Linked DNA regions of Homo sapiens. The protein of the gene in region 1 purifies or fractionates together with the protein of each later gene. This does not show direct contact. Each region holds a gene or a part of one and is shown in the gene's direction. Other genes may lie near its edges. The genes, in order: CHST15, PLEKHG1, NDUFAF2, SLC43A3, TJAP1, MTARC1 and DIPK1A.

Region 1 (3,216 bases):
TGCCATGCCTCCTGCCTTACGGGACTCGTCTTCTTTTATTCTAGGGCCCTTAAGTGAGAAGCAGGAGGCTTTGATGACCAAGAGCCCCGCATCCAATGCACGGCGTCCCGAGGACCGGAACCTGGGGCCCATGTGGCCCATCACACAGAAGATTCTGCGGGATTTCTACAGGCCCTTCAACGCTAGGCTGGCGCAGGTCCTCGCGGATGAGGCGTTTGCGTGGAAGACGACGTGAGAGCTGAATTGTTGCTGCACGTGCTGGGCCCGCCAATGCCGTCATCATCAGGATTTTACAAATCTCTTTGCGGGGAACTGTTTCACTCATGGTATGGAAAACCCCAGGACTCTGCCACTCTAGGCACACATGAATTATAACCATTTTGGAATTTCCTTCGTGATGTTCGAGAGCTCAGCAATGGACCCCTCACAGAGCTCCTCTATCCGAGGCCATTGGAGACCCCAGTTTCTCAAGAATTCAGCTCTGCTCTGAGCGTCCTGGAGCTTGGGGATGCAGCCAGCTGGCCTGCACTGGGTGTGGAGAGAACACCTAGGGAAGGCAGCCTGGCCCTGCCCGCCTCCGCCTTCTGGAGAGCCTCTGGGTTCTGAGTCAGCAAGCCAGAGGTCATGCCACAGGCCTGGCTGGAACTTACACTTCACGTTCCCTTTTTTTCCCCCTAGAGATGGGGTCTCGCCGTGTTGCACAGACTGTCTGTATTCAATGGCTATCTTCACAGGTGTGATCATACCACATTCACTTCTGAAACACTCTTGTTGCGATCGCTAACCTCACTGGGACAGAGAACCGCAGTCTTTCGAGAATGGAGGCTCTTCATTTTTTTTTTCTCCTTTACTCCAAACTCAGCCCTCCAGTTTCTTCAGATGTAAACCCTGTTAACGTCACTGTTTCCAAAAGGAAAAAAATAAGTCAGTTTTTGGCAGCACCTTCATCTTTCTGACCTCCTCCTATTCTGTCCTTGTGGACTTATGTTTAACATAGAAAATGAATGCGTTTAAAACAAAACCACTTTCTGCATTTAACCAGTCCTGGCTCTCTCTCTGCTGCCTCTTCATACGTTTTCTCAAGAACTTCAGTTTATAATTGGAAGAGAAATTTTTGCTGTTAATGCCAGAATGAGCAACCTCAAGGAATTGAACACTTCTTGGAAAATCTAGGTAATTCAAGCCCTCATCAGGTTTACAAGATCATCAGAGAAACAGAGGATTTTAATTTTTAGTTCTGGCCGGCTACAGGCTCCATTTCTCTGCCTTCCCATTGGAAATAGTTTATTTCCACATTCTCCACTGCGTGTGGTCAAAGTTCCTCACCCAGCAAGGGACTATAGATACTCGTGTCCCAATTCCAAAACACAATGCACAAGCTGAACTTGGGCTGAACGTGGCGTGTTGAGATTTGGAATGAGGTTTCTAAGAGCCGTGTTCTTCATGGAATTTTCCAGGCCACTTGGCAGCTTGGTTTACCGATGGATGGGCTAGAGATCTTGTCGTTTCTTGGAAGTCACAGGGAAGATTGAAGAGAACGCTTGAGCATCCTTGGCAACAGCCCAGGTGGGACCTGGATGAAGCTTTGCACTCAAGTATTGTCAAGGGAAGCTTCCTGTGAACCAAAGTTCTCAGGCCAAGGTCTCGCCCACCAAAGCCAGAAAGTGCAAGCACCCGTCTACCCAGCTCTAACTTGTATGTGTGAGACAGACCAGGCTTCGGGGGTAGGAGGATCTGCAGTTGTTCAGCCGTCTTTCTGCTGGTGTTGTCTTTCTGCCATCAGAGAAGGGACACACAGCCCGTTCGAAGGTGTGCAGAGGGCTCTGAGCGCCAGGATGGCCAGGGCTGTTTTTGCTACTGAAGGAGCGTGTGTCCTGAACTCCCACTTGCAGGGACAGTCCCCACCTTCTCTATAGCCGGCACTGGGAGCAGCCGCCAGCAGGGAAATCTGGCCTGAGCACAAGGATGCTTTAGGGAGAGATCACTTCAGTGTGTGTGTATATTTATTTGCAGTACAGTGCGCGCGTGTGTGTGTGTGTACGCGCACGTGTGGGTGAGTGCGTCTTCTGAGTGGGTTCTGTTCAGTTGCTAATGAGGCTCCTCCGCTCTGGACACAACCCTTTTATAGATTAATTTCTCTGCCAATTAACTTGTCATTTTCAGTACATATTTTACTATTCCACACCAACCATAATTACAACAAGGGATTTTTCTTATGCACTCCTATGCATGTGAATAACATGTGGTGTAATTCTGCTTCTTACAGAAGTATTACTGAAGGTATTATTTCCAATATTATTTGGTTTATTATGCGGATCTTTTTTATATATGCAGTCCCATCCCTTCTGTGCCACTCAATGCCATCCAGACATGGTTTTTCCCTCCAGGGGCCTTTCTCTCCAGAGGGCACTTCGGCTGCCTCTGCTTCCTCTCATTCGAGGCCCGGCTCTTGCTGACAGAATAGGTTCCGTTCTGGGCGGTGGTTCTCGAGCCTGCCATTCAAAACCAAAGCAAATTGGAGCATTTCTCACAACATGGTATTGAAGTTCCTTTTTGTTCTCAAAAGTTGTGACCGTGTTAAATTGTACTCCCTTAGTCCTGTAAGGTATGTTAAGTGAATCGCAGTTACGCTGTACTTTTATTAATATTTAACATAATTAAAGATGGACCCATAAGAGTGACGCCTGTGGAGCGCGTGCTCTTCCTCTGCAGCCAAGCTCTTCCTGGTGCATGAGTGAATCGCAGTGGTTTAGTGTCGCACCTGCTCGAGTTGTGCAGGCTCTGTGTAAAGAGGAGTTACAGCTGTGCTGGCTGCTGAGAGACGAGGTGTGATTGTGCGAGCAACAGGCAGAAGAAAACTCAAGACCAGAGAGAAAAGGATTCAGATGTTAGCAGGGACTCCCTGTGCGAGTCCTGTTGGGGTGTGAGTCAGGGTGGGAGGTCTGGCCCAGCCACAGTCAGGCCTAGCGTTGTCTTCAGACCTTCAAATTTGAAGGTTAAGTGACCACAGGCCTCATTCCGGTGGCCTGCCTGGCCCCTGGCAGCTGTGAGTTTGAGACCCCTGGTGTCTCTGGCACATGTCCTTATTGCTGAGGGCAAGCCCGCAGAAGGAGGTGTGGTGTGCACTCAGGTGGGGCAGCCAGGACAAAAGACCACAAACAACGGAAACTGATTTTCTCAGTCTGGAGGCCAGAGACCCGAGATCAAGGTGCTGCA
Region 2 (4,206 bases), on another chromosome or scaffold:
ACACAAATCACAACATAGAGAGATGGGGTAACAGGCATGATTTTGTGTGAGCTCCAGAAGCTGGGCAGGGTCTTAATTAAGCTCAGTTTCCTGTCTGTGAAAGGCGACTAGCACCTGTCCTGTCAACCTCACAAGGTTATCGCAAGGCCAACTGAAACAATGCTTTGAAGATGGCAAATGTCTGTTTTAGTCCCATTGCAAATCTACCGTGGTAAATGTATTCCAAGCATAACCCAGTCCCATAGTTTTAGGTAATACAAGTCAGTTGTGGAGACTCAAATTATAAAACAGAACATAAACTCCACGTGGTAGAGAACTGTGATGCTGTGTAGCCTTACTGCACAAACCTTGTTTTGTTCCCAGTCTTTATGATAATTTCCATAATCATGTATATGCATAAAAGCAGATAAAAGGCAAAAATCAACAAGAATAGCTAACATTTATTCAGGCTGTAGAGCATGTGCCAGACAGTCTCCTAAGCCCTTCACGCACATTCTCTTATTTAAATCACATACAGCAACTCTATGAGGTAGGCACTATCATCATCATCATCATCATCATCTCCATTTTACAGATGAGGAAACAGACAGAACACAGAGAGGTTAAAGCGTTCTCTCAAGGCCACACAGCTAGCAAGTGGTAAGGCTGAAGGTCTGTTAACAACTAAGAGTGCAATCAAATCCACCACCAAACCTAAGGGGGTCCACAGGCGACCCTGATACGTCCGACTTTGGCGGGAGATTAGTGTTAAGAAATGACTTCACATGCCTTTAACTGTCGCTGCAGGCACCTTTGATTGGAGTCATAACTTTACTGCAGAGCCGGTGCCTTTAAACATCTCTCTGGCTGTCACCGGTTATTCTTTACCTCCGTTTCCACTTTTACTTTCTCTAGGCAAAGGTCGTTTGGTGCTTTAACCGAGGTGATTAGGGTAATGACGCCTGAAGAACACCGGGCTTCCCCCTCTTTTCACTTGATTACCGGCAAAGCTTCTATGTAAAACTAGAATGTTCACTAAAACCATGATTTTGGGTATTATTTTAAAGGACTCACATAGGAAATTATTACGTCCAAAGGAAAGCTAAACCTGAAGAGCTAGGAAAATGAAAAAAAGTGATGTGTCTGCGAAAACAGTAGCAGAATTAAAAAAAAAAAAAACTTTATTCCCCCCGAAGCTGTAATTTGACTGTTCTCTTTGGCAAGGCTCCAGAGACAAGGCCAAGTGCCTAATTTCTCTTTCTCTTCGCCCCCCTCCTCTCCACCTTTTTCACCCTCAGGGCAGAGGGGAGGCGGGACGAGCGATCCACTGCTCCGGCCGCCGAAGCTGGCGTCTGGGCGCGGGGAGGGGCGGGCCGGGGCGCGGCCGAGCAGTGGGGCCGAGCCCGAGGAAGAGGAAGTCGGAGCCCGAGCCTGAGCCCGAGCCCGAGCCCGACGGCGGCTGCAGGGCGCTCCGGCAGCCCGAGCCGGCGCAGCGCAGCCCGCACCCTCCCCGCCCGACCTGCGAGCGCCGCCCGGGCATGCGAAGCCGTCCCTCCCCGGGTAAGCGCCGGTCGGGCCCGGACGCCCTGGGGACTTTTCCAGGGATGGGAGGGGGGACCCGGGGACCTCCGGCGGGAGCCCCACATCCGCAGGTGGGGCCGGGCGGAGCGTGGTACCCGGGCCCCGCCGGCCCCCTGCGCGCCCCTCCGCAGTGGGGACGGAGGGCCTTGGGGGGCGCCGAGCGGTGGGGACAGAGGGCGCCGGGGGCACCGCGCGGTGGGGACGGAGGGCGCTGGGGGGCGCCGCGTCTCGGGGGTCGGAGTCGGGTCGGGGATGCTGCCCGCCGCCGCCCCGCTTGGGGTTCCGCGCCCCCAAGTTCCCGGTGCTCCCGCCCCTCGCCCCAGCGGCTGCAACATCAGCGCGCAGAGGAGTTTCTGCGAGCACCCGGGAGTTGTAGCCACCGCTTCCCCACCCCCGACTCAGCAGGACAGCCCCAGAACGGGACCCCACAGCCAGTCAGCTGGGTCAGCTCCCCAGCAGCGAAGCCGGGAGCCCGAGGACCCGGGGACGCGCGGTGGGGGCGGCGGCCGAGCTGCTGCGGCGCTCAGGGCTTGGGGGCGCCCCCGTTCTGCAGATGCGCTTTTCAGGGGGTGGGGAGTCAAGAGCCTGTGGCTCTTCCGTCACGGGGTAAACGGTAACACCTGGGCGGCCGCGACTCTGCGAGCGTTCTGGCCTCGGCGGGCGGCGGGGAACCGCAGTGATGCCCGAGCTCGCCCCTTTTGTGTCCTCGCGGTGAGCCCCGTTCCGAAGCCGGAAGCTTGGGAACGCTCTAACTGGGAGAACGGCGCTCGGCTGGTCAATTCATTCCGCTCCTCGGAAACAATGAGCTGGATCCTTGACTTGAATGTGCTGGCGGAGCGGGGTTTGTAAGCCGGCGTTTCATCCAGCTCTGGTCCTCAAGGCGCCCTTTGTACCACCCGCAGGTGGCCGAGGCTACTGCACGTATTTTCGAAATCACCGAGTGTGGGTGTTTGGGGCAGGTATCACCCCGCGAGGACCATCTCAGACTGAGAGTTGGTTTAGGAGTTTTGAACAGATTGGATACAGAACTATATTGTGTTTTGTATTTAGACCGGGGGAAAGACTAGAATGTTAACTCTAGGGTCCAGTTTGTCATCTAACAGAATTCCGGGCTTGGGTAGGTCCTGTAATGCGGTACAATAACAACCAGGTGTTAAAACCGGCATCTTCTGGATTCTCAGATTCTGTAGACAGCATACTTCTAAAAAATGTAGAGATTTTGGATTTTGATTAAATTGCTGTTAAAAACATTTCCAAGCCCATCATTTCAGGAGATCAGAAAATTTTCGAACTTTAATTTTGCCCTGTGGGACCCTGGGCAAGATACTTGCCTCTGGTCGTCTTGGCTGCCTCCCTTATAAAGCAGTGCACACGAACCAGATAGCTTCTACGGCCTCCTGCTCATTCCTCATCCCCCTCCCAAACCCCTACCCCCTGTAATTTGGTCTACAATATTTAAGACAGAGAGAAAAGTAACGGGTTGATGTTTGACTCTCTCAGCATTTTGAGTCTGGCTTCCCAATTCCTGACTTGACTTTTTGTCTCATTTGAGGTCCCAATTCTAAGCCACCAAACCACCTGACTAAAGAAACTTTTTTCTTCAGAGTGCTCCCACCTCCCTGGCTTCATCCTCAAATAGGTCATCAGTAGCAGTCCACAGTCAACAGCAATGGCTGCACGACCTTCCCCATCCTTGTGTAGCAGCCCCCCAAGTCCTCTGCTAAAGGGCAAAGCAAAGTGAGAAACAGTTACCTGGCAATCAGATGCCAGATAACTGCCCCGATTCTGCTCGTCCTTGGTGGCATTTTCCTGCTTCCCCTACTCTAAATGGGCACCCTGAATTAGGGGCACCAGCTTCCTTCAATGCCTTTAATATAGGTGACTGTCACCGAATACAGGCTTAAATATTTCAGTGGGGGATTCAGGCTGTAGTTCAAAGAAGTTAAATGATCATTTTTAAAACAATAGGAAGTGGCAACATAATTTTTCAAAACCAAGAATAACCAGTCCTATGTTGTGTTCCCCCTTTGCGGATATGATTTTTCAGTGATTTAATTAAGATCGAATGGTTCATAGTCTGTCCCATAAATATGGGAAATGCTTGAGTAGCACTAAATCTCTTGAGCCCTTCGTCAACCAAAAGCAATTCCTGAAGCTATTATCTTAATGGCGGCCGTTCACTTTTTTGCAGATTTCTTTTCCTCTCCACTCCTTTCATTGCTGGTGGTTGGTCTTTCAAGCAGTTGTCATCTTTTAATCCTCCTGCAGCATGATTAGGTCCCTGGAATATTAAACCCAGAAGGGCTCTTGGATGACCTAGTCCAGCCCTACATCTTAAAGATTTAGGAAGTCTGGTTAAGATCCAGTGATCTAGAATTAGCCTACTTGTGTGATGCTCACATCTACGTCTCTGTAGCTTTGAGACCTTCACTTCTTTAAGGAAATTACTTAGATATGGATTATTTCATAACCAGGAAAAGTAAAAATCATAGTTGGTGTCTCTCGGTTTTCTCACCTTTCCTCATTTTCACACCTTTCCTCCTTTCTTCTCCGCCCTTGTCTCAAGTTATGCCAAGGATTAAATGAAATGATTCGTATCAGTGTTTGGCACATATGGTGTGCTTTGAAGATGATTGTTGTTGATAA
Region 3 (3,500 bases), on another chromosome or scaffold:
ATAAAGTGAGTTAAATTTTGTTTCCTTCTTTTGAATTTTCTGGAAGCGTTTGTGAAGAATTTGTATTACTTATTTCTTACATGTTGGATATAAATTGCCTGTGAAGCCATCTGGTCCTGGAGTTTTCCTTGTTGGAAGGCTGGAATTAAAAATTCAAAGATAATAAATTTTTAACCTACAAATTTAATATCTTTGGCAGGTATAAGACTACTCAGGCTATCTATTTTGTCTTAGGTGAGTTTTGGTAGTTTTTATCTTTTGAGTAGTTTGCCCTTTTTATCTAGTATGTTGAATTTACAGTCATAAAGTTGTAATACCTCTTCATTATCTTTTTAATGTTTGTACAATTTGTAGTGATATCCTCTCTTTCCTGAATTGATAATTTGTGGCTATTGTTTTCTTGGCCTATCTGATGAGTGGTTTGTTAATTTTATTGATCATTTTAGAGAATTAGCTTTGAGTTTCACTGATTTTTCTCTGTAAGTTTTTTCCATTGGTTTCAGAACTTATCGCTTTCTCTTATATCGTCATCGTTTTCTTCTGCTTTCAATTGGTTTTATATGTTCTTCTAGTTTCTTAAGGTGGCCACTGAGATCATAATTTGATCTGTTTATTTTTTAATATACATTTTTAATGTTAAAATTTCTTGTAGGCACTGTTTTGGCCACATTTCACAAATTTTTATCTTAAAATTTTCATGTAACGAATATATTTTCTTATTTATTTTTTCCTATATGACCTATGTATTTATTTAGAAGTATGTTCTTTACAAATATTTGGAGATTTTCTAGATGGAGATTTTCATTGACTTCTAGTTTAATTCTATTATATTCAGAGAACATATTTTATATGATTTCAGTTATTTTAAATGTATTGTAAATTGTTTTATGGCCTAGAGTATGGTGCAATTTGGTAAATCTTCTGTTTGTGCTTGAGAAAAATGTATTATCTATTTTGCTATTTGGGGTTGAATGTTCTGTAAATGTCAGTTAGCCCAAGCTGGTTGATAGAGTTGTTCAAGCTTTGTATATTCACACTGATTTTTTTTGTACTTATTCTATCAATTATTGAAAAAAGTATGTTACAGTCTCTGAATACAAGTTTACATTTGTCTTTTACTCTTTCCAGTTCTATCAGTTTTTGCTTCATGTATTTTCAATACCTATTGTTAGGTCCTTACACATTTATAATTGAAAGATAATAATACAAATTACCCAAAATAAAACACAGAGAGAAAAAAGACCAGAAAAAAAAGAGCAATTAGCAAGCTGTGGGATACCCCCAAGTGGCCTAATATATGTAATTGGATACCATGAGGGGTAAAGGTCATTTTGCAGGTCAAAAATATTTGAAGAAATAATGGCCAAAAATATTCCAAATTTGATGAAAACTATAAACCCACAGACCCCAAATCATCAACAAATTCCAAAAACAAAAAGTGTAGAAAACCACACCAAGGCATATTATTATCAAATTGCTCAAAGCCATTGATAAAGAGAAAATCTTTATAGAGCTAGAGAAAAAGATACATTACTTACAGAGGAAGAAAGACGAAAATGAGTTCAGGGTTTTTTTTAAAACAAACAATATAAGCTGGAAGACAGTGGAACAATATCTTTAAAGTACCAAAAGAGAAAGTCTGCCAACCTATAATTTTGTACACAACAAAAATACCTTGTTAAAACAAAGGCAAATGAAGGTTTTTTCAGACATACTGTACCTGAAAGAATTCATTACACAGAGACCATAATTCCCTTTCCTCTTCCCTCTACTGGATATCTTATTCCCTGGATTCTGGGCCTTTCACCACAGTTTTGTAGCATATATGCTTCAGTAGCCTCCTGAGAAGAGGTTCAAGGCGGATAAAGTTTTTGAGTCTTTGAATGTCTGAAAAGATTTTTATTCTGTCCTCATTTGGTTGATGTATTTGTTGGGTGTAGTTTCTACTGCAGTCATAGTGAGTAAATGTCTAGAGAAAAGCAAGCAGTAAATTCTATACGAGCTTAAAAGGAGTAGCCTATGAATTGAGGAAGAGTATATGCATAATGTAGGCTTTGGTAAATGTTTTTAATGTAACCTAATGCTATGGTTTACTGTATTTATGAATATATATTTTAAAATGCATGATTACATTGAATAACAGTGTTTTGGCTTTAATAGTAAAGCTTTTTTTCAAATTTAGTCGGTATAAAATTATTTGAGATAGTCACACATACTTTGTATGTGCCCTATTGACAACAACCAAAGGAATTTCTCCTTTCCATGCAAATGAGGAACACATAGACACAGATGTAAATGTTCTAAATCATTATTTCTAGTGATATAAGTTAGGATTGTTTTACTGGAAGATTGTGGTGCTTTTTGAGTGTTGGCTGTGTATTTTAGACAAAGTAGCTGGTAACTAGGACTAGTTCCAGCTTTACAGGTCACCATGATACCCATATCCATGTCTCTGGTCCCAAGTCATTAGCTGTAAGATAGCCAAAGACCTATGATGTGGCTAGGTGTGAGAATTCTGCCCCATATAGGCATTCTGTATAGGTTGGTAACAGACCAAACATGGTCAAATTTTTTTCTGTTGAAATTTGAACTCATAGATATATAGAGAGAGGAAAATATGAGAATAATTAGGGATCAGTAGATGTCCATTTCTAAGAAGTTAGGGTGGCAAGCATGTTGAAAGGTTCCTATTAGAGCACAATAGGTATTGTTGTGTCCTAAATCACATTCCAGTTGTCTCTATTTTGCAAATGTTGAGTTTTTCGTCTTTCTTCCTGTATCTTTACAGTATTCCCTGGTTACCTGAGATAACTTGAGCGTAACTGTTCTTTGAAATCTGAGACTAGCTAACATATATACTATGTACTAGATTTTAGAAAATTTTAGGTATCTGAAAATACAACTTTTTCCTTTCATGTGTTAATTTTGTCTCTTAGAAATTCTTCCTGTTAAATATCAAGGAACTCATGACCTCAAGTGATCTGCCCGCCTCAGCCTCCCAAAGTGCTAGGATTACAGGCATGAGCCACCGTGCTCTGCTGTCCTTTTTTTTTTTTTTAAATAGTAGCCATCCTAACAAGTATAAGGTGATAGCTTATTGTGGTTTTAACTTGATTTCCTTGTTGGCTAGTGATATTGAGAACCTTTTCATATACTTGTTGGCTATTTTGTATGTTTTCTTTGGAGAAATGCCTGTTAGTTCCTTTGCCCATTTTAAAATCAATTTATTTGGTTTTTTGCTATTAAGTCATAGAAGTCACTGATACATTTTGGTTTTTAATCATTTATGAGATATGGTTTGCAAATATTTGTCCTATTCCATAGGTTGCCTTTGTATCCTTTGCTTTGCAGAAGTATTTTGGTTTGACGTAATCAGACTTATCTATTTTTGCTTTTGTTGTTTTGTGCTTTTGGTGTCATATCCAAGAAATCATTGCCAAAGCCAATGTCAAGAAGCTTTTTCCCTGTTTTCTTCTAAGAGTTTTGTAGTTTAAGGACTT
Region 4 (3,500 bases), on another chromosome or scaffold:
GGCATTCCTTTGCTGCTCACTTACTAATTGTCAGACCCCATGTGCTCTCTGATTTCATCCTCACAATAATCCTCTGAGATATCCTTATCTCCATTTTCTAAATGCAAAAAATGAGGCTCAGAAGGGTTAAGTCTGAGCCATCTTTCTGTTGCTAGGAAGAGGCAGAGCTGGGATTTGAACCTGGGCCTGCCCTACTCTTTTCATGCTTCCTAAACTTTGCTGCTTATTAGAATCACTAGATTCACATAGAGATCTTAGAAAAGGAAGCCTGGCTCTCACCTCCAGACATTCTGATTTAACTGGTCTGGTCTGCAACCTGGGCATCAGAGTGGCTAAAAGGTGATTCCAAAGTGCGGTGGAATGTGGGATTCACCATGCTATTCCCTCCAGTCTGAGTCTCAGGTTCGGCTCACAGTCCTTGGCCTTGCTGGTGGGGCTTTTGTTTCCATAGCCTGTGCCCTGGGAATGGCACCACAAAGGAAGAGAAGGAAACAGCTGAGCATGAAAACAGGGAGCTACAGTCAAAGGAGTTCCTTTCAGCGAAGGAAGGTGAGCCCTGCTGGCTAACCCATCTCTCCTCCAGACCCAAGCCTCTCCTTGTGCCTTTCCTGGCCCCTCACCTCCAGAGCTCCCCCAGGGACCCAGAATCAGGAAAGGCAGGACAGAAAAAGGGCCTTAGGCATCTTCCCAACCCTCTCACTTAATGGAGGGTCCAGGGCTTTCGTCTCTTTTCTGTCCCTCTTTTCTCTATTTCGCATCCTATCACTTCCCCACCCCTTGAAGCCCGCCTGCCATGGGTTGCCTTCCCTTCCCCCCACTCCTCGGTTCTGCCCTCTTCTGTGATGCCATTGCACTAAGTCTGGTACAGTGCCCCCATTTCTCCAGGTCTCCTGGGTCCGCCCTCTCTTATTGTCCCAACTCTATCACTGCTTCCTTTCCTTCCTCTCTGTTCTGCGTCTTTGGTTACACACATCACAAACCGCAGCTAGCTACAGTAGAAATAAGAACGGGGTGGGAGAGGAGATGGGAGATGCAGGTCGAAGGACAAAAAGGAGCAGATGAGCAGGATGAACAGGCCTAGAGATCTAATGCACAGCACGAAGACTGTAGGTCATCAAACTGCATTGTGTTTGGGACTTTCCTAAACAAGTAGATTTTAACTGCTCTTGTCACAAAACAGGTAGAAATGTGAGATGATGGATATGTTAATTTGCTTAACTGTAGTAACCATCTTAGTAGCTATATGTATCCTATGACCTCATATTGTATATCTTAAATATACAGAATAAAATTGATTTTTTTGTTTTTATTTTTACCATCTGACAATTGGATCCAAAACATGTATTTATTTATTTATTTTAAAGAAAGAAGAATAGGGTTCTGGGAAGCTTCCAAAATCAAGGGAGGACATTGAACTTGCCAGGGTGTAGGACCTATTTTAGATTAAGTCCATCCTAATCTAAACTCATGGCCGGTCTGCCTTGTTAGGAGGAACCATCTCATTGGTTAACCTTGAGAGAGGAACAGAACACTGAATTCATGGTCCCATCTGGACCATGAAGATTAGGGTAGAGGAAGATTTCCCAAAGAAACTCAGGATACTGGTATCAAAAGAAAGGGAGGTGCTGAGGAGCAGGTTAGAACAGAGTATCCACACTCATTCTCCTCTCCCTTCTGACTTTCTCCTCTCCTTGTCGTTCCTTTCACCTTTCTCGCTGAGAAAGATCAGGAAGGTATTACTGCAAGAAGTGTCATTGACCAGGCTGTGAGAGACAGATCGGATTTCAATAGAGAAGAACACAGAGGGTCATCCAAGGTGGTAGGGCCAGCATGACAAAGCAGGGAGGTGGGGATGTGTGAGTCCGAGGCAGGTGCAGAGCACGCCGGGTGAGTTCTGGGAGCCAAGGGTAGAAGGTGGGCCCGGATCTGAAATGTTCCATTGAAGCCTCCACACTCCCCATCCTACCTGTCCACTTTCCTCGTAATTCACGCCCAGATCCTCCTCTCCCCATTAGAGACCCCAGGGGCAGGGCAGAAGCAGGAACTCCGCTCCTTCTGGAGCTACGCTTTCTCTCGGCGCTTTGCCTGGCACCTGGTGTGGCTGTCTGTGATACAGTTGTGGCACTACCTCTTCATTGGCACTCTCAACTCCTTGCTGACCAACATGGCCGGTGGGGACATGGCACGAGGTATGTGGTAGGGCTGGGAGGTAGCCCATCTGCATGTCCCAGCTGGGAACACAGAGCCTCCCAGCAGGGCTGTACACACCAGAGGAGGGTCTGATGGTGTGGGGAGGAGGGACATGCAGACAAGGGTAAGGTGGGAGAGTCCCTGCCTGGAAGGGAGTTTTGGAAACTTCTCATCAACCAACCTCTCTCTTCCTTCTGCAGTCAGCACCTACACAAATGCCTTTGCCTTCACTCAGTTCGGAGTGCTGTGTGCCCCCTGGAATGGCCTGCTCATGGACCGGCTTAAACAGAAGTACCAGAAGGAAGCAAGAAAGACAGGTGAGATGCGGGGGAGGGCAGGGGCTGGTCAGGGAACCAGGAAGGGAGGTCTTCATTTACCCCATGACATCTTCTCTCGCTCTTTTTTTTTTTTTTTTTTTTTTTTTTGTGATAGAGTCTTACTCTGTTGCCCAGGCTGGAGTGCAGTGGTGTGATCTCAGATCATTGCAGCCTGCACCTCCTGGGTTCAAGAGATTCTCCTGCCTCAGCCTCCCAAGTAGCTGGGATTACAGGCGTGTGCCACCATCCCCCACTAATTTTTGTCTTTTTAGTAGAGACGGGGTTTCACCATGTCAGGCTGGTCTTGAACTCCTGACCTCGGGTGATCTGCCCGCCTCAGCCTCCCAAAATGCTGGGATAACAGGCGTGAAGCACCATGCCTGGTCTTCTCTTTTGTTCTTAACCCTGTCTAGTTGCACTCATTCATTCATTAAAACACTAGTCACTGAGTGATAGTTATGTGTCAGCCATGGTGCCAGACACCAGGGATTCAATGACAGACAAGATAGATGTGTTCTTTTTCTCAAGGTGTTCTCAGTCTAGAGGGTGGAGAAAGGCAGGTAGTCAGGCAGTTATAATCCGTGAAGCAAACCCACAGGGGGCCATGGGGGGCACAAAGAAGCGCACATAATCTGTTCTAGGTGAGGATGGGATTGGTGTCAGGGAAGGCTTCCTGGAGGGAATGGCACCTAAGCCAAGACCTGAAGGATGAGTAAGGAGGGAGGAGATGAAGAGGCGGGGCCTTGGAGAGTGGCCCAGGAGCACAGTGGGGTCAAAATGGTGAATGAGAGAGTGAAACATTGAGGAATCTGGGCAGATGAGTCGGGCTGGCTAGGGCACAGAGCACTGGGGAATCTTAGGGAAGTGGCTGGAGAGAGAGAGGTAAGAAGGGGTCAGGCTGTTTACCACATCAGGGAGTTTTGGCCTGATCCTTGGACCTGGTTGGAGGAGTAGAGGTATGCTGAGGTATTTTAACCTGCTGGGTCAGGAGGG
Region 5 (3,500 bases), on another chromosome or scaffold:
CTGGTGAAAAGAGTGGTGGAGGCCACAGGGGTTTGGTCATCAGTGGCTGAGGCCAGAGAGCTCTCTTGGGCCTTGAGACTCCCACTGGGGATCCTGGATTGTATCCCCAAACTCACATTTTTGGTTATGATTTTTTTTAAACTAACATTTATTCAACATTTCCTAAGTGTTTTACATCATCTTCCCAACAACCCTATGAATTGGTGCTATTCTTAACTGGAATCAGTAGCTCACACCTATAATCCCAGCACTTTGGAAGGCCAAGACAGAGGGATTGCTTGAGCTTGAGAGTTTGAGCCTGGGCAACAAAGTGAGACGCTGTGTACAAAAAATAGCCAGGTGCAGTGGCACATGCTTGTGGTCCGAGCTACACAGAAGGCTGAGGCAGGAGGATTACTTGAGCCCAGGAGGTCGAGGCTGCAGTGAGCCAAGATTGCGCCACTACACTCCAGCCTGGGCAACAGAGCAAGACCCTGTCTCAAAAAAGAAAAGAAAAAAAGAAATTGATGCTGTTTTATCGCTAATTTAGAGTTGAGAAAACTAATGCATAGAGAGCAGTTTTACCTTCTGAGGCCTTCAGAGCCCACAAAGGAGAGTGGTAAGGAGGGTGGTGGGCTGCTTTGAAGCTCCCTGTCCCACTCTTAGAACCTAGGTGTTCAGGCCCTAGGCCCTGCCTTTCCCACCCATCTGTTCCCCGTTGGACCCATGCCCCACCCTCCAGCACTCCTTTGACCTATGGGGACTGACACACCTAAGTCCTGCCCCTCTAGTGACTCCAGTAATGGCCCAGGCCTGTCAGCCTATGTGGTGGCCTCAACATATGTCCCCTTTCACCATCTTTGTTTTTTCTCAGTCCAGAGTCCTTCTGGCCACATCTCTGAGCCTGCCTCCTTCTTGCTTCTCAGCAGGCGGAGGAGCCGTCACCTCCCAGAATGACTAGTGCCGCCCCTGCTAAGAAACCCTACCGTAAGGCACCACCAGAGCATCGGGAGCTGCGTTTGGAAATTCCTGGATCCCGGCTTGAGCAGGAGGTCAGCAAGACTGGTATCACAGCCTGACCGGCAGAGGCAAGGCCCCTGAGGCTGGGTGTCTGGCTGACTTCTCCTGCCTGAGCTTCTGGTCCTGAGTTGGGGTGAGAGTGGGCCTTGCTGTTGCAGGCCTGAGGTCTCCTAGCCGCAGTAGTGCAGGTGGGGGTAATGTAGGCTCAAGGGGGACTGTCTGTGAGTATATGTCCACATGTCAGGGAACCCCTGAGTCTTTGTAGCTTAGCAGAAATGATCCCATATGATATTCTCCCTGCAAGAGGCAGCCCAGTAGACTGAGGGGTCCTAATCTGCTAGTGGTTGGGACTCTGGTCCTCCGTAGTGGAGTAGAGCCATTCAACCTGTGGCCCCTTTGGGGCATATCAGGAGGCAGTGCTACAGCCACTTCCCACCAGCACAGCTGCTCTTCATTGTCCCCAGGAAGTCCAGCCCTTCCTCCAGCTTTGCTTTGTTTGGCTAACATTTGTTGAATATGTACTCCCTGCCAGGAACTGTTAGGTCCGGACTCTGCTCTTCGGGGCCTATAGTCAGCTGCAAAACATTGGCTCTCCTGCCCCATTAACTTCACTCACAGGCAGAAACGAGGGCCACAGTGGTTTACTGCCCTTGCAGCCATATCTCCATCTGGTCACAGTGCGTGGAGCACATTTAAAGAACCTGAGACGCAGCATGTGCTGAGCATCAGGCATACTGTAGCCTGCTTTGGTCAGATTCAAGGTAGAAAAGCCATGACTTGCTCATTTCAGTTCAGGGAACATTAAATTAAGATGCCAGCTATTATGCTAGGTGCTACCCAGCGAGCATTACCTCAGTTTTATAAATGAGGGAACTAAGGCTCGGTGAGGTGAAGGCTGTATAATCAGTATGCAGTAGAATAGGGTGAAATCCAGTTGTCAGAGTCAATGGACAAAGGAAGCCACCTACCTCCATTTTCTGCCAGAGGCTGCTCTTCTGAAGCAGTCAGTTCCACATAGAATAGGCCCCTTGATGTTTCCCTCTCGCGATAGCAGGGGCCTACTCTGCTTTGTGGTTGGCTGAACTTGACTCTTGAGCCATGACTGCCATAGGGGTTTGGGGAAGATGGGGCAGGAGGTTAAAAGACAGACAAGGCACTTCCTCCCCTTAGTCAGGATTAGTCCTCTTCTCCCATGCACTTGTTCTTCCTGAGCCTCTGCAAGAGCCTGATTCTGCCTTTGTCTTCATCTCAAGGCTGAGGGCTTTGTCAGAGCTCAGAACTCGTGTGTATAGTTCAGCCTGACTTTTCTGGAAGGTCTCTGCCATACCTCTGTGGATACAGGACCCACCAGGAGCCGAGTGAACAGCTGAGAGGCTGTCTGCCCCTGGGGAGAGGTAGCTTGGGTGCCAGGACTTATTTGAAAATGGCTTTAGGATTGGATTAAGGGTGAAGGTTGGAAGAGGTTCTTGAATCTTCTGGTTGGCATGGGAGAGGGTAGTCGAGGCTTGTCCCAGCATTACTGAATTGCTTCCATCCGTAGAGAGCCCTGCAGCCCTCTTCTGCTATAAGAGTCTTTGGGCTTCACACCTGAGCCTTCTTGTGGCTATTTGGAGGGTGAGCCAGCCGGGGGTCCAGTGGTCCAGAGCTGAGCCTCAAGCCTCTCTTTTTTGCCTAGGAACCCCTGACTGATGCAGAAAGGATGAAGTGAGTATCTGCTACCTGAGATACTGCCCTGCCTCAACTCTGTCCCTCTTAGCTCCAGGCTAGACTGTTGGTACAGTTGGACTTTCCCTTGGATTAGGTAGAAATAAAGGTTGGGATGGGTTGTTTTAGGGACTCTGGGAGGAGTGTTGATGTTGTGGATATTTTTTCTGGAAAATGGGATTTTATTGTTCCATGGGCTTCAAGAGAGCGTAGAATCAGGAGGCGAATGGCTCTGAGGGCCCTGCTCTTCTTGCTAAGGAGCCCTTCCCCAGCTCCTGGCTCCTGTACCAGCTGCCACCCTTACAGCCCTTTAGCCACATGAGGCCTCTGGAGAGGAGGGCAGTGCTGGGCTGGATTTCCAAGAGATGAATAATGGAGAAGCCTGATTGTGCAGTGGGGAAACTGGAGCTGGGGGCTTGGTGGCCAGCTGACATGGGCTGTAACCAGAGACAGGCTGGGAGCCATATCCCTACCCCCAATTCTTTATTTCTATTCTCCGATAGTGAAGGGAGGCTGGACTGTCCCCTACCATCCCCTCTTCCTCCCCTGACCCTCCAACCCAGGCTGTGTTCCCAGGGCCAGCAGGCCTATGAAATATGCTGCCTTAGACTCAGACTAAGACTCCAGGAGTTTCCCTGTCCTGTTTGCCTGTCCTCATGTCATCCCTTCCTTCCTGAGCCCACTCTGGAGCTCCAGGGCATGCCCTTCTATCTCTCATACCCCTCTGCCCTTGATCCCACAACACCCTGCCAGGCTCTTACAGGAGGAGAATGAAGAGCTTCGCCGGCGCCTGGCCT
Region 6 (3,500 bases), on another chromosome or scaffold:
CTGGTAGCTCAGATCACAAGCAGTAGGCAGAAATAAAGCCCTTCCCTTGGAAGCATTGTTTGTTTCTTTGTTTGGGGGACTCTTGAATTTTTGCCCTTGAGCATCTACCTTCCTATTTGTGTAAGCATTCTGATGCCAGTAGGGTTTCAAAACTGTTCTGCACCAGTGTCTTTTTTTCATTCCATTCTGTAATTGCACATGGAGTCCAGAATTTTTACAGTTTGCAGTTGTATGTCAGATTCCAATTGTGCAAGTTGGCATGGGTATGGAGATACACAGACTCAAATGATCAGCCTTAATGGCATAAAGCTCTAAGGATTCATCATAAAAGCAGGGTTTGTAGTACCATATACTGCTTTTACCATGGCCATAAAAAAAATAAATTATGCTGTAGTCCTTACTGCTAAGGAGGCTGAGGTGGGAGGATTGCTTGAGTCCAGAGAGTTGAGGCTGCAGTGATCTGTGATGGCACCATTGCACTACAGCCCAGGTGACAAGGAGTCTCTGTCTCAAAATATATAAATAAAGAAACAAGCAAATGCATAAATTATGGTCAACATAAATATTAATTTGTAAGTTGCATAAAATAAGTATTCATGGAATTAGTGAACATTTAAATCAAACATAATGAGGTCATCAAACTCAACCACCTTATTAAACATTTGAGAAATGGGAGGCTTAGAAAGGTTCAGTGATGTCCCCAAGGGCACATGCCTTGTGGCAGCTTAGGATTGATTCTGAGTCCTTGTTCCCTTCATTCCACCATGCAGTTTCTGCTATCTGCAAGGCTATTGAAAACTTCTGAGTCACTGTGACTTCTATTAAAAGAACAAGAGAACTACTTTGAAAGATTGTGTGTGGGGTGGGGTGGAGCATGGAGGCTATGTCTAGGAACTAGGCACACCTAACCACTGAAAAGTTGGTGTGCCATGTGTTATAACAATGTCTATTTCCTTATCAGATTGCTTACTCAGACACCAGCCCATTCTTGATCCTTTCTGAGGCGTCGCTGGCGGATCTCAACTCCAGGCTAGAGAAGAAAGTTAAAGCAACCAACTTCAGGCCCAATATTGTAATTTCAGGATGCGATGTCTATGCAGAGGTAACACTATGCCCCTTTGGATCTTTCCTTGGATTTGACTTCTTTTTTAAGGTATGAGAGTCTTTGACATTGGATTAGATTATTCTGAAGGGTGCATTATTTATCAACTCTGTAATACATAACAATTTGATTTTTAGATTTATTCAGCACTTAATAAGTGCAGACTTCTGTGTGGAGGATACAAATGTTGATGGGTCAGAGACTGTCATCAAGGAGGCAGTTCAGTATCTAAGGCTTCTAAGGAGAATTCTGAGTTGACAGGTTCGTTGTTGAGTCACATTTTCTTGCATAGACTACATGATCTGTGTGGGCCATGGAACAAAGAAAGTGTGTGCTCCTGTCTTGTTAAAGGATGGTCTTACTGTTTAGTAGACGGCTCTCTTGGAGAAGACAGGCATTTACTGCAAGGCTGCTGGGTGAGGGTTGGGAGAGGTTGTTGCCCCTAAGCTTCATGGCACTACCCTGAAATGCTTGCAGTGCCACCTTCCATCTGCCCTCAGATGTTTGCGTGGTGACTTAGCTTGAACAGCCCTGAGGCTTGGTTTCTGGGATTCCACAGGATTCTGGCAGCAAATTTACCTTTGTAATAAATGGCCTTTGGCTATTTAACTTGATTCTCTCCCTGGGCTTCCATGAAGGCAGAGGTTGGTGGCCTAGAGGCATGGTGAGTGGCCACCAGCTGTGGATACTCAACAGAAACCCTGACCCACAGCTAGGAATTCAGGAGCTCTGGTTGTGCCTCAAATTTATGTTGAGAAGGGAGAGGTAAAGGGGACCATATAGTGGTTCTTACGTCTGCCCATTTCCTCCATAACAGGGAAAAATGGAATCAAAGCAATTGAGTTTTAACCTTTTATCCTCAGAGGAGCCAATTATATTCTTCACTTTTGCTGTACGGAGGCAAAACTATGCTGAAAGAGAAATAATCTAAGAATTTGATTCCCACATTCAAACCAGAAGATGTGACGGCTGGTTTCAGCTTCTGCACTGGCTTCTGCATGACTTTGAGCAGCCCCGCTAAGTCCCATTTACCTTGCCTGAACAATGAGATGATCATATTTCTGCCTAGGGTTACCTTAAGGGTCTGTTGAAGGGTCAGTTTGGATAATGTAATTTATGAGATGTATAAAAGCAATATCAATCGATGGAGGATAATAAAAGTACGCCCAAATCCACTGCTAATGCTTCATATAAAATACTCATTGCTCCAAACTTCCAAGGGTAGCGTTTCTTCTAAAGATGGTGGAGAACTTCCTAGTGTGAGGCGGGTGGACTGTGTGCATGTCCCCCAAGGTCCTGGGTTGGGCATCTCTCAGTGCTTCTTTGTGACAAGAAATTTCTGCCTGTCCTGCTCCTGTGCACCATGGGCCAGCCTGACTTAGACAACAGGAAAATAATCAGTGTTTGGTTGCCTTTGACCATCTCCTTGATATTCATCTTCCACCAGCTATGGCTAGGAGAGCCATTTCTCCTGAGAACGTTCCTTCTCAGGAAAAGAGAAATGAGTGGGGAGGGTTTTGAATGAATACTTGTGTTGCGCTTAAGTATGTTGTCTCTTCTATGCCTCACGGCAGCCCAGCGGGATAAAGCTATCATTCCTATCTTACAGGAGAGAAGAGAGAGGCTTGGGGAGGTGAGGTGGCCTGCCCTAGGCTATACCACAGCAAGGAGGGGCTGGGTTTTGAACCCCAATTGTACAAGGCCAGAGGAACCCTGAGAATTCTAGGGCATATGTATGGGGCTGGGACAGCTGGATTCTAATCCACCTGCTTCCGCAAGTGACCGTACAAGCCTGGACAGGTCACCAAACTCGCCGAGGCATCTGCTTCTTGCAGTTGTAAAACACGGGCAGTTTCAATGACTCCCTCGCCTGATGGGAGCTGTGAGAATCAAGGTCGATGACAATTTGTGGAAAAGTTCTAGGACATTAAGTACCACAGGGAGGTAAGGAAGAGTTTCATTCCTGGGAGTTTGGCTCAGGTACCAGCTTTTTCCCTATGATCGACTTTAAGCTTTCTTTCTCCCCTGTGTGATTTGTGCACCGAGGGTCATGCTGAAGCCATTTCCACCCCAAAATTCTGTGACAGTAAGATTCGGATGACAGGAGAAGAGGAGATGGCCCAGAGTAGAACTTCAGATCTCGGAGATTTCTTTCAATTGAGTCTTACTCTAAAAACCCGTATCTCTCTCTCTATCTCTGAGTGTTCCCTAGTTGAGAACATTCTGTATGTGAAGCTGGGCGGTAACACAATGGTGGCTGAGCCGGCCTTGTTTTTAGTAATTCACCCATCATCGAGTGGGTTGCTGCCCCTGTGTGGCATGCGCTGTGAATAGACACATGAGAACAAGGGTTGAAGAAATGCACTTGCTTCTCCTAAGGAGCTCAGTGTGGTCAGAT
Region 7 (3,500 bases), on another chromosome or scaffold:
CAGAGACCAGCTTTGTATACTTGCAGTTATGCTGTTTGTCTTTAACTGGATGGGGTCAAAGACCAGTTATGTCCTGAGGTGTTCAGGCCTTAGGAGCTGTGAGTTCCCTTTTTTCTGCAGTGTACAGGAGAAAACTTTTAAGCAGTCAGCTTACTTGTAAAGGAACTTCATTCTCAGTATTTTTATTAATCCAGATATCACTGTGGCATTTGGTAACGCTTTTGGAAAACTGTGGCATTACACAATTAATGATATATTTTCAGCCATAATAGACATTCATGAGCTAATGCAGGCACCTATTCACTGTTTATAGCTTTGCTTATATAGCAGAAGAGATTCTACTGCCTGTGAAGAAAAGAACTTGTGTGGTATATGCATACAACAGAATATTATTCAGCAATAAAGTGAAATGAAGTTCTGATACACACTGTAACATGGATGAACCTTAAAAACATTAAATATATGAAACTAGTCACAAAAGATCACGTATTATTTCATTCATATGAGATGTCCAGAATGGGCAAATCTATAAAGACAAAAAGATAGATTAGTGGTTGCCTGGGGGGAAATGGGGAGTAACTACTGATGGATATGAAGTGTTCTTGAGGGGGACAGAAATGTTCTAAAATTGATAGTGGTGATGGTTGCCCAAGTATGTGAATATACTAAAACCTACTGAACGTTATGCTTTAAATGAATAAATTGTAGGATATGTGAATTATTAGTATATCTCCATAAAACAGTTGAAAAATAAATGAACCGAGTTTATCTCATGAAAGTCGTCCTTCTTCTCTCTGCCTTTTGCTGCAGATTCCACCAAGGTCAGCTTTTTGGTGCAGGGAGCACTTCTTCCAGGGGAGCTGGGCAGGCACACTGTTAGTCTGTGCAGCCTCTCTGTGGGCTAGAAGGACTTGTGACCTGCCTGGAAGGGCCAACAGACGTTTACCTGAGCAACAAGCTTCTCATGGCAAGGCATCTTGCCCAGAGCAAGCAAGCTAATTTACAGTTCCATGTTTTCCAGATATTTTGTTGAAACATTACTTGGGAAATAACACTTCCTGGACTGGCTAAATGATGCAGCACATTGAACAGAGTAGAATCCTGCCTCTGAGATCAGAAACTGTGGATGTATTAACTGCTTAAACCATTTTTAGGCAGTATTTTCTTCCACGTGCCATTATGGTGCATACTACTTGTGGCCTGCTTGGGTGTGATAACCCAGAATGACACCTGCATTTGTCTTTTTTTAGCAGTGTGTTTTCTACAAACTAAGATCTACTTTGTTTAGGGTTTACTCATAGTCTGAGTGAAGCTGATAACACAGCAACCCTATAATTTGTTGGTTTTGGTTTAAAATACCTTCTTCCTTCTCACCATCGTTAAGTCCTGAAAGAATGAAAGTCAAGACAATTCAGCATAATTCTCTGTACTTAGATTATACACATTTTCCATTCCAATCATTCTGCCTATGTGTTCTGTTGCATATGAAAAGTTGGTGCAGTTCTAATGGAATTTGAAGTCCCATGTACTTGGGTCCTTTGAAGGTTTTCAAGCCGTTTTGCTTGTAAGGGGCTTAAAGTTTTAGAAGTATCCTCTTGAAAATGACTGCCCTAGCAATTTCAGTATGTGTTCAGTAGGGTTGTTATGAGTGAATGGGTAGATGGCATGTTCTAGCTAGGGTGTTTGCACTTGTTTAACATTTCTGATACCTGGCACTTTGGCTCGTATTAGTACAATTTTTCAAACATGACTGCTGTGGATGGTTTGGTTCCTTATGAGTTAATGTGGATATTTTGTGAGATTTAGTGCCAGACAGGGTTACTGATACAGATTAATTGGTAATAGTAGTAATGTTGCCAAATACTGTAGTAAAAATGGGCTTTTTGCCCATTTTCAGTCTCCAGGATTATTTTAAATCTAAGGATAATTAGAGCCTATGGTTGTTCTCTATCCTCCAAAGACAATAGAGGGAGAAGATCTGTAGTTTGTATAGTTCTCATTAACTTTATTAGACCTGCTGTTCAGAGATTAGCTTTTGCCTTTGCCTGAAATTTAATCTCCAGAACTATGATTAGCTTTCTGAGACTGGTATGTGTACAGAGAGCCACTTGATATTACCATTAGTTGCTTTTGAACCTTTGTTAGAAGCTCAAAGAAATGGTGAATTCTCAGGCAGATTGCATCCTTACCACATTTCTTTCAAACTGGACCATACAGTAAAAGTGTTTCTTCACTGTAGTCTTCTCAGTGCCTCAGATTTTTTTTTTAAGTTAAAGATTTAAAAGTTTTTAGAGCCATTTTAAGTTCACAGCAAAATTGAGAGGAATGCAGAGAGATTTCCCATATACCCCTTGTCCTGACACATGAATAGCCTCCCTCCTTTTCTTTTCTTTTTTTTCCCCTTTTCTTCTTTTCTTTTCTCTTCTTGATACAGGATCTCCCTCTGTCACCCAGGCTGGAGTTCAGTGACACAATCATGGCTCACTGCAGCCTCTACCTCCCATACTCAAGTGATCCTACTGCTTCAGCCTCCTGAGTAGCTACAGGCACATCCCACCAAGTCCAGCTAATTTAAATATTTTTTTAAGAGACAGTGGTCCCACTGCATTGCCCAGGCTGGTCTTGAATTCTTGGGCTCAAGTGATCCTCCTGCCTTGGCCTCCCAAAGTGCTGGAATTATAGGAATTAACCACTGTGCCTGGCCCCTCCCCTATTTTCATTTTTTTTTCTTTTTTCTTTCTTTTCTTTTCTTTTTTTTTTTTTTTGAGACAGAGTCTCACTCTGTCACCCAGGCTGTAGTGCAGTGGTGCGATCTCAGCTCACTGCAAGCTTTGCCTCCCAGGTTCATGCCATTCTCCTGCCTCAGCCTCCCAAGTAGCTGGGACTACAGGTGCCCGCCACCACTCCTGGCTAATTTTTTGTGTTTTTAGCAGAGACGGGGCTTCACTGTGTTAGCCAGGATGGTCTCGATCTCCTGACCTCGTGATCTGCCTGCCTTGGCCTCCCAAAGTGCTGGGATTACAGGCGTGAGCCACCGTGCCCAGCCCCCTCCCCTATATTTAACATCCCCCACATAATGGTACATGTTTTACAGTTAATGAACTTACACTGACGTATTATCACCCAAAGTCCATAGTTTTACATTAGAGTTCATTCTTTGTGTTGTACATTCAGTGTGTTTGGATAAATGCATAATGACATGTATCCATCATTATTGTATAGAGTGTAGTTTCACTGCCTTAAAAATCTGTGCTCTGCTTATTTATCCTTCTGTCCCCACTGAGCCCCCAAAAGCCACTGGTCTTTATTGTCTCCATAGTTTTGCCTTTTTCTAAAATGTCATCTAGTTGGAATCACGTAGTATTTTAGGTAGCCTTTTCAAATAGGCTTCTTTCACTTAGTAATATGCATTTACGTCTCCTCTATGGCTTTTCATGGCTTAATAGCTCATTTCTTTTTAACGCTGAATAATATTTCGTTGTCTGGGTGTACCACAGTTT

Evidence for each region.
Region 2: the proteins of CHST15 (region 1) and PLEKHG1 purify together in Homo sapiens (affinity purification with mass spectrometry; one large-scale study listed by BioGRID and IntAct). This does not show direct contact.
Region 3: the proteins of CHST15 (region 1) and NDUFAF2 purify together in Homo sapiens (affinity purification with mass spectrometry; one large-scale study listed by BioGRID and IntAct). This does not show direct contact.
Region 4: the proteins of CHST15 (region 1) and SLC43A3 purify together in Homo sapiens (affinity purification with mass spectrometry, with the first as the bait; one large-scale study listed by BioGRID). This does not show direct contact.
Region 5: the proteins of CHST15 (region 1) and TJAP1 purify together in Homo sapiens (affinity purification with mass spectrometry; one large-scale study listed by BioGRID and IntAct). This does not show direct contact.
Region 6: the proteins of CHST15 (region 1) and MTARC1 purify together in Homo sapiens (affinity purification with mass spectrometry; one large-scale study listed by BioGRID and IntAct). This does not show direct contact.
Region 7: the proteins of CHST15 (region 1) and DIPK1A purify together in Homo sapiens (affinity purification with mass spectrometry; one large-scale study listed by BioGRID and IntAct). This does not show direct contact.

Annotation. Positions count from the first base shown.
Region 1 is NC_000010.11:124,007,168-124,010,383, reverse strand, and holds the end of CHST15 (carbohydrate sulfotransferase 15), read left to right. Parts: exon of another isoform or gene 1-44; coding exon 45-235; 3' UTR 236-2,716; downstream 2,717-3,216. UniProt on the Homo sapiens protein: Sulfotransferase that transfers sulfate from 3'-phosphoadenosine 5'-phosphosulfate (PAPS) to the C-6 hydroxyl group of the GalNAc 4-sulfate residue of chondroitin sulfate A and forms chondroitin sulfate E containing GlcA-GalNAc(4,6-SO(4)) repeating units.
Region 2 is NC_000006.12:150,598,479-150,602,684, forward strand, and holds the start of PLEKHG1 (pleckstrin homology domain-containing family G member 1), read left to right. Parts: upstream 1-1,406; 5' UTR 1,407-1,517; coding exon of another isoform or gene 1,518-1,539; intron 1,540-4,206.
Region 3 is NC_000005.10:60,951,705-60,955,204, forward strand, and holds part of NDUFAF2 (NADH dehydrogenase [ubiquinone] 1 alpha subcomplex assembly factor 2), read left to right. Parts: intron 1-3,500. UniProt on the Homo sapiens protein: Acts as a molecular chaperone for mitochondrial complex I assembly. Complex I functions in the transfer of electrons from NADH to the respiratory chain. The immediate electron acceptor for the enzyme is believed to be ubiquinone.
Region 4 is NC_000011.10:57,413,622-57,417,121, reverse strand, and holds part of SLC43A3 (equilibrative nucleobase transporter 1), read left to right. Parts: intron 1-451; coding exon 452-549; intron 550-2,015; coding exon 2,016-2,189; intron 2,190-2,390; coding exon 2,391-2,507; intron 2,508-3,500. UniProt on the Homo sapiens protein: Sodium-independent purine-selective nucleobase transporter which mediates the equilibrative transport of extracellular purine nucleobases such as adenine, guanine and hypoxanthine.
Region 5 is NC_000006.12:43,498,070-43,501,569, forward strand, and holds part of TJAP1 (tight junction-associated protein 1), read left to right. Parts: intron 1-853; exon of another isoform or gene 854-908; 5' UTR 909-932; coding exon 933-1,031; exon of another isoform or gene 1,032-1,067; intron 1,068-2,674; coding exon 2,675-2,703; intron 2,704-3,456; coding exon 3,457-3,500. UniProt on the Homo sapiens protein: Plays a role in regulating the structure of the Golgi apparatus.
Region 6 is NC_000001.11:220,796,913-220,800,412, forward strand, and holds part of MTARC1 (mitochondrial amidoxime-reducing component 1 precursor), read left to right. Parts: intron 1-961; coding exon 962-1,102; coding exon of another isoform or gene 1,103-1,153; intron 1,154-1,239; exon of another isoform or gene 1,240-1,363; intron 1,364-1,919; exon of another isoform or gene 1,920-2,277; intron 2,278-3,500. UniProt on the Homo sapiens protein: Catalyzes the reduction of N-oxygenated molecules, acting as a counterpart of cytochrome P450 and flavin-containing monooxygenases in metabolic cycles.
Region 7 is NC_000001.11:92,954,963-92,958,462, reverse strand, and holds part of DIPK1A (divergent protein kinase domain 1A), read left to right. Parts: intron 1-3,500.